2 linked regions of the Homo sapiens genome follow. The protein of the gene in region 2 interacts with the protein of the main gene of each other region in a pairwise test. Each region holds a gene or a part of one and is shown on either strand. Other genes may lie near its edges.

Evidence for each region.
Region 1: the proteins of TCEANC (region 2) and ZNF276 interact in binary tests that used the Homo sapiens proteins (3 or more experiments, as listed by UniProt).

Annotation. Positions count from the first base shown.
Region 1 is NC_000016.10:89,731,537-89,735,036, reverse strand, and holds part of ZNF276 (zinc finger protein 276), read right to left. Parts: intron 1,736-3,500; coding exon 1,625-1,735; intron 1,556-1,624; coding exon 1,480-1,555; intron 1,117-1,479; coding exon 999-1,116; intron 1-998. UniProt on the Homo sapiens protein: May be involved in transcriptional regulation.
Region 2 is NC_000023.11:13,656,004-13,659,763, reverse strand, and holds part of TCEANC (transcription elongation factor A N-terminal and central domain-containing protein), read right to left. Parts: intron 113-3,760; 5' UTR 78-112; coding exon of another isoform or gene 1-77.

The DNA.
Region 1 (3,500 bases), on a different chromosome or scaffold from region 2:
CAGGCGTGTGCCACCACACCCAGATAATTTTTGTATTTTTAGTAGAGACCAGGTTTTACCATGTTGGCCAGGCTGGTCTTGAACTGCTGACCTCAGGTGATCCACCCACCTCAGCCTCCCAAAGTGCTGGGATTACAGGTGTGAGCCACCACGCCCGGCCAAGTTTGTCATTTTGAAAACATATCCTTGTTGGATTATAAAAGTAACTTGTGCATTATAGAAATTGTGAAAAATAAGACGGGCACAGAGACAGCACCCTCAGTCATAATTCCCCCATCCGCCTCCGGTCTTAATGACACGACCTACACACATGTGAAAAGGCAGAACCACACGTGCCTCCCGCCTGTCCACGTGGGCAGCTCCCCAGAGCTGGTGTGCCTTCATGCCTTCTGCCTTGCCTTTTAAGATACACTTGTTTGGGCCAGGTGCAGTGCTCACACCTGTAATCTCTGCACTTTGGAAGGCTGAGATCACTTGAGGTCAGGAGTTAGAGATCACCCTGGCCAACATGGTGAAACCCCGTCTCTACCAAAAATTACAAAAATTAGCCAGGCATGGTTGCGGGTGCCTGTAATCCCAGCTACTTGGGAGGCTGAGGCGGGAGAATTGATTGAACCTGGGAGGCAGAGGTTGTGGTGAGCCAAGATGGTGCCACTGCACTCCAGCCTGGGCAACAGAGCAGGACTCCGTCTCAAAAAAAAATTAAAAAATAAAATGACCAATTTGCAAAAGGACACCAAGATTGCTTGGCTATTAGTTTTGACAAACTGCCTAGATCCTGGGGAAGTCAGGAATTCCTTCCATCACAGGGAAGGGCAGATTCACACTGACGCCCTACTCTAGCCTTCATCTACCAACGTGACTGAGTACCAAAGACCCCATGAGCCACCTTCACGCACCCCCAACTCTTGGGGCGGGGATGGGTATGAGGAAGACTGGAAAGCAGGTCACGTGCCCCTGGCTGTCACCCGCGTGGGCGACACTGGCGATAGGCGTACCTGTGTGGATGAGCTTCACGTGGCGCTGCAGGTAGCGGTCGATCATGAAAACCTTGTTGCAGCCAGGGTGGGGGCAGGGCCGCTCCCGGACCTCCTCGTGGTGCTCCTTGATGTGCTTCTGAAGGAGAGACTCGGTGAGAGACCCTCAGAGCCGCACCCGGGCCACATGGCACGAGCCCTCAGTAGGTGACAGCTGAGGCCCCTGGAAGGCAGATCCAACTCCTCCTCCAGCGACACCACTGGCTCCTTCACAGCTTCACTCCAAGAAACTTCTAGACCCCCCGGGGGGTGTCTCAAGTGAAAGTCTGGCCTCACATCTACCCCCAAGGATGGCACTGGCTAGGACTGCTTCAGGTCTCGGTTAACCTAGGTCAAAGTGTCCTTGGGCGCAAGTCTGAGTTAGGCTGCAGAAACACCTGCTACCTCCCCCAGGTTCACACTGACAGCTGCCGGGCCTGGGTCAGGCACAGCCAGTGCTCACCTTCATGCCGTCAGCGCCTCGGTACACGGCCGTGCAGCCCTGGTAAGGACACTTGTAGATGGTGGGAAGCTCCTCCCTGCAATGAAGAGCATGCATGGAGCCCCGGCCCCGACAGGCAGGGCGAGCCTCGCGTTGCAGGCATCACCTCTCACAACGAAGCTTCTTCTTCCATCCGGGCTTGGGTCCCGGCTTCTTCCGAATTCTTGGTTCTTCAGACTTCTTGGCTTCTTTGCTTTCACTCTTCTTACCAGAGACTCTGAAAAAAAGAGGTTCCCAAATTCAATGGTTTCTGATCTCCATTTGCAAAATGTTTTTTGTCTCTCCAACCTGAGAAATGGTCTTTTCTGAAGCTTCCCTGAGTTGCTTCTGTGCTGACTGACCCTCAGAATCTACCTGAAGCCACCAAAGCCAGAGCAACTCTGGACAGGAGGCCTCAGGGGCGAGCACAGCAGAGGGCAAGGGCGCAGGACACAGCAGGGTCAGGGGTGAACACAGCAGAGGGCGAGGGCGCAGGGTACAGCAGGGTCAGGGCAAACACAGCAGAGGGCGAGGGCGCAGGGTACAGCAGGGTCAGGGCGAACACAGCAGAGGGGGAGGGCACAGCAGAGGATGAGGGCGCAGGGTACAGCAGGGTCGGGGTGAACACAGCAGAGGGCGAGGGCGCAGGGTACAGCGGGGTACAGCAGGGTCAGGGCGAGCACAGCAGAGGGCAAGGGCGCAGGACACAGCAGGGTCAGGTGAACACAGCAGAGGGTGAGGGCGCAGGGTACAGCAGGGTCAGGGTGAACACAGCAGAGGGCGAGGGCATGGTACAGCAGGGTCAGGGGCAAACGGCAGAGGACGAGGGCGCAGGGTACAGCAGGGTCGGGTGAGCACAGCAGAGGGCGAGGACGCAGGGTACAGGAGGGTCAGGGCAAACACAGCGGAGGGCGAGGGCACAGGGTACAGCAGGGGTGGGTTCTGAGAACTAAAGCTTCACCCTGTGCTACACATAAAACCCACAACTAGAGGTATCAGGACGGCAGAACAGGGATGTCCAAAGGACCACTCCTTTATCAAAACGACCTTACGCTAGGAAAAAGCTCAGAATCCACTCTCTCAAAATGGGTCAGCTTGATTCCAAGCTCAAGCCACCCAGGCAGGGCTTCAGAGGAACAGGTGATGCTCCCTGGGAAGCACACGGTGAGTAGCTGCCACCCCAGCATTCCTCAACCCCGCCTCCACTGCAGGGAGCCCAGCCTGTGTTCCTGGAGCTGCTGGCTGGGACCATGGTGGGCAGGAGACCTTGTCCTCCAAAAGTCTGGGGTCGTGCATTTTAGTTGGTCTGGCAAGTCCCTGAGGGACCAGCAAATGCAGCAGCTTCCAGTGTGCGTCTATCGGAGACTTAAAGAGAGAGACGCACTTGTGGTTCCTTTCTGGATCCAGGTAAGAATAGTTAAGGAAATATCTCAAGAACAGAAAGGAACTTCTTCACCACGATAAAACCTCTACATGAAACCCACAGCAGACACCACGCTCAACTGTGAAGGACTGAAAGCTCTTCCTCCAAGGTCAGGAACAAGATACGGATTCTCTCACCACTGCTCTCAGGGCAGCACTGGAGGCCCTAGCCAGAGTAACTGGGCAAGAAAAAGAAAACAAAGACAAATTCTCCCTATTCACAAATGACACGACCTTCTACGTAGAAAACCCTAAAGATCCACATACAAAAAACCCTAATTAATTATTTCAGCAAAGTTGCAGGGCACAAAATCCATACACAAAACCCAGTTATGTTTCTATATATTATCAATGAACAATACATATGCAATAGCATGAAAAAAGTAGTTTACACTGCCGAGTCCAGTGGCTCATGTTGGCAGTCCCAGCACCCTGGGAGGCTGAGGTGAGAGGCTCACTTGAGCGCACAGGGCTGCAGTCAGCCATGATCGTGCCAGGGCACCCCAGCCTAGGCAACAACATGAGACCCTGTCGCTAACTGCCCTTCTCTTTAAAGAGTGCATTGAGGCCGGCGCGGTGGC
Region 2 (3,760 bases):
GTCCCAGCTACTCGGAAGGCCGAGGCAGGAGAATTGCTTGAACCCGGGAGGCAGAGTTTGCGGTGAGCCGAGATCATGCCACTGCACTCCAACCTGGCGACAGAGCGAGACTCTGTCAAAAAAAAAAAAAAAAAAGGGCTTAACACAGTAAATTTTATGTTTTGTATATTTTATCACAATTAAAATTTTTTAAAGAAATATGAAGAAAAGGTCAATAAAAGAACATATAAAATGAAGAGCAAAGTGCTTTTTGGTTGTTTATACATAAATACATTAACTTCTATAGATTTACTCATTTTGCTGGTAAGACAAATTGCTGCTTTCACCCCACTGAAACCCCGAAGCTATAATTACAATTCCCTTTAAGAATTACCTTGAAACTCAGACCTTCAGTTGAGAAATTCTGACCTGAGTCAAATATTGCTTAACTTCCTTTTGGGCGCTGTAGGCCCATCTCTTATTCACCATCTTTCTCAATGCCTAGCAAACCTCCATCCTGATTTCAATAGTAATGCATATAGAATGCAGGCACATTGAATGTTTCTTCTTTGTTAGGAAACTTTTCAACGAGTCGGGGAGGGCTCAAGTATATTGAATAACTTGAAACTTTATCACTGTGACACAACTGCGTGACTTCAAGATCTGAAGCAGACAATTCTGAGAGAAATGTTCGCTAATAGAGGGTGTGAATATTTTTTATTTTTCTGTGCTGTCTTGCCTGTTGTTTATTAAGAGTTTGATTCTTAGGAAGACCTCTTTTACTGTATGCAGTCTTTAAAAGTGGAATTTTAAAAAGGCAAAAAAGAATTATCTTTTAAGTGCTGGTTCACAATAATTAGGAAAATTACATAAGATCCTGAATTGATGGCCCTTTGTGAAACTAACTTTAAAACAAAACAAAACTGACTGCCCCAGGTTTTCTACATTCCAGCTCCCTCTGGTGGTTAAAAATGTAGGACTCAGACTCTTGGTTATGTAAGGGTACTTAACTCTTCATATTTGGGGATAAAGTTTGAGGGGAGATGCACCTGTTTGAGATGCAGTAATCGATTTCTGAGGCAATTATGAATACTTATCTGAATGCAAAGCCACAGGTGATATAGCCACTCTTAAGAGACGATATTCACATTTCAGAGGGAAGGTGGGTAGAAGGTGATTGATTCATTTCTCACCATACCATTTTTCAGTATCTTAAATGTATACAGTTTATCATGAAATTATATTAGACCAATAACTTTTCTGATTATGAAAACAATGCATGCTCATCACAGAAAATACAGAAAAGAGTAAAAGAACAAATGAAAATTACCTAAAATCTCACCATTCAGAAAATGCCCCTCTTTAAAATTTTGCGTATCTCTTCAGTCTTTCCATATGTAATTCTTAAGTAAAATTTGGACCAGATTCTATTTTTAAATAACACCTTTATTCAGATGTAATTCACATACCATACAATTCCCCTAAAGTGTATAATTCAGTGGCTTTTAGTATATTCACAGTTGTGTAACCCATCACCACAAATAAATCAACTTTAGAAGATTTATCTGTGCCACCACCCCCCAAGAAAATCCCTGCACTTTAGCAGCCACTCCTCTTTCTTCACTCCACTGCCCTTCTGTCCCACCCCACCAAGTCAACAACTAATCTTTTTTCTGTCTGTATAGATTTGCTGTCTGGACATTTCATGTGAATAAAATCATACAGTATGTGGTCTTTTGTATCTGGCTTCTTCTATTCAGCATAACGTTTTCAAGGTTCATCCATGTTGTAGCATTTTCAGTACTTCATTCCTTTTCATGGCAGAATAATATTATGTTGTGTGGATAAACCACATTTTATTTATCCATTCATCAGTTGATGGACATTTTGATTATTTCCCATTTTTGGCTATTATGAATAATACTGCTATGAACATTTGTGTACAAGTGTGTGTGTGTTTTTTTTTTTTTTTTTTTTGAGATGGAGTCTCGCTCTGTCACCCATGCTGGAGTGCAGTGGTGCAATCTTGGCTCACTGCAATCTACACCTCCTGGGTTCAAGTGATTCTCGTGCCTCAGACTCCTGAGTAGCTAGGATTACAGGCATGTGCCACCACGCCCGGCTACTTTTTGTATTTTTAGTAGAGACAGGGTTTCATCATGTTGGCCAGCCTGGTCTCGAACTCCTGACCTCAGGTGATCCACCTGCCTTGGCCTCCCAAAGTGCTGGGATTACAGGCATGTGCCACCACACCCGGCCTGTGTACAAGTTTTTGCATGGACATATGTTTTCATTTATCTTGAATCTGCTGGATTATATAACTGTTTAATCTTTCATATAGTTTTGCATCTTGATTTTTTTTCACTTAGCTTTAGGACTATTTTTCCACATCATTAAATATTCTCTAAAAACACGATTTTTAAATGGTTATGTTATTGGATCATCCTAGGAGTTTGCGATAGTTTTTAATCATTCTCCTATTTGGGGCCTTCCAGTTTCTCCTAAGTTTGAAGAAAATGCGTACATATGCGGTCTCCACATCTCTCGTTTCCTTAAAGTGAATTCACAGAAGTAGAATTACTAAAAGGTAAATATGTTTTATGTCACTTGTCATATGGTGTCTGGGAAGATTGTGTGAATTCTCTCTCTAAACACTTCAGTGTTCTTAGCCTGTGTATGTTCGGTGGTGATTATTTAATATCAAGTGCTATAAAACAGAGCCCATGGATTTTTGAAAAGACACAGTCCCTGCCATCAAGATGCTTATGTCCAGCACTCTTTTCATCCTCCCAAACTGAAAACTCTGCACCCATTAAACAACTCCTCATTCTTCCCTCCCTCCAGCCCCTGGCAATCACCACTCGACTTTCTGTCTCTATGGATGAGACTACTCTAGGTACTTCATGTGAGTGGAATCATACAGTATTTCTCTTTTTGTGACTGGCTTATTTCACTTAGCATAATGTCCTCAAGGTTCATCCATGTTGTAGCATGTGTCAGAACTTTCTTCCTTTTTAAGAATGAATAATATTCCATTGTCTATACATAACACATTTTGTTTATCCATTCAAATGTCAACGGATACTTGAGTTGCTTCTGGCTTTTGGCCATTGTGAATAACACTGCTGTGAGCACTGGTATACCAATCTCTCTTTGAGACCCTGCTTTCAATTCTTCAGAGTATATACTCAAAAATGGAATTGCTGGATCATATGGTAATTCTATTTTTAATTTTTTGAGGACCCACTGTATTGTTTTCCATTCCCTTCCACATTTTTAACAGGATTTAAATCCAGTCAAACTTTCTAGTCCTCTGTGGGACCATCATGTGGATATAAAGGATTTATTGCCCTAGGAGGGTATAATGTGGAAGCCATTGAAATACAAAATTCTGACAATTGCCATAAAAAGACAAGGTAAGGCATATGTCCAGCTTAGTTCTACATAGTTCATTCAATAAATATATATTAGGGATTGAGTATGTGCTAGATGCTGAGCCTAAAGAGACAGTCTCTGCCTTGAAGGAGCTGATAGCCTAGTGGGAGTAATACTGACAAGAAACTGGCCAGTTACAACACATGTGGAATTTCAACATGGACAGACACTGGCTGCTAGGGGAAACACACGCAGGATGGCACCAAACCCTATCTGGGCTCGCCATCATCTGGACAGCTACAATTTGCTTCTTTACTGCCTTCACTGTACTTCTGGCACTCACAAGGCCCAACTGTGAGTCTGGCACTTTGTTAGAGGGATCATCCTCTAGTACAGATCTCAGAAA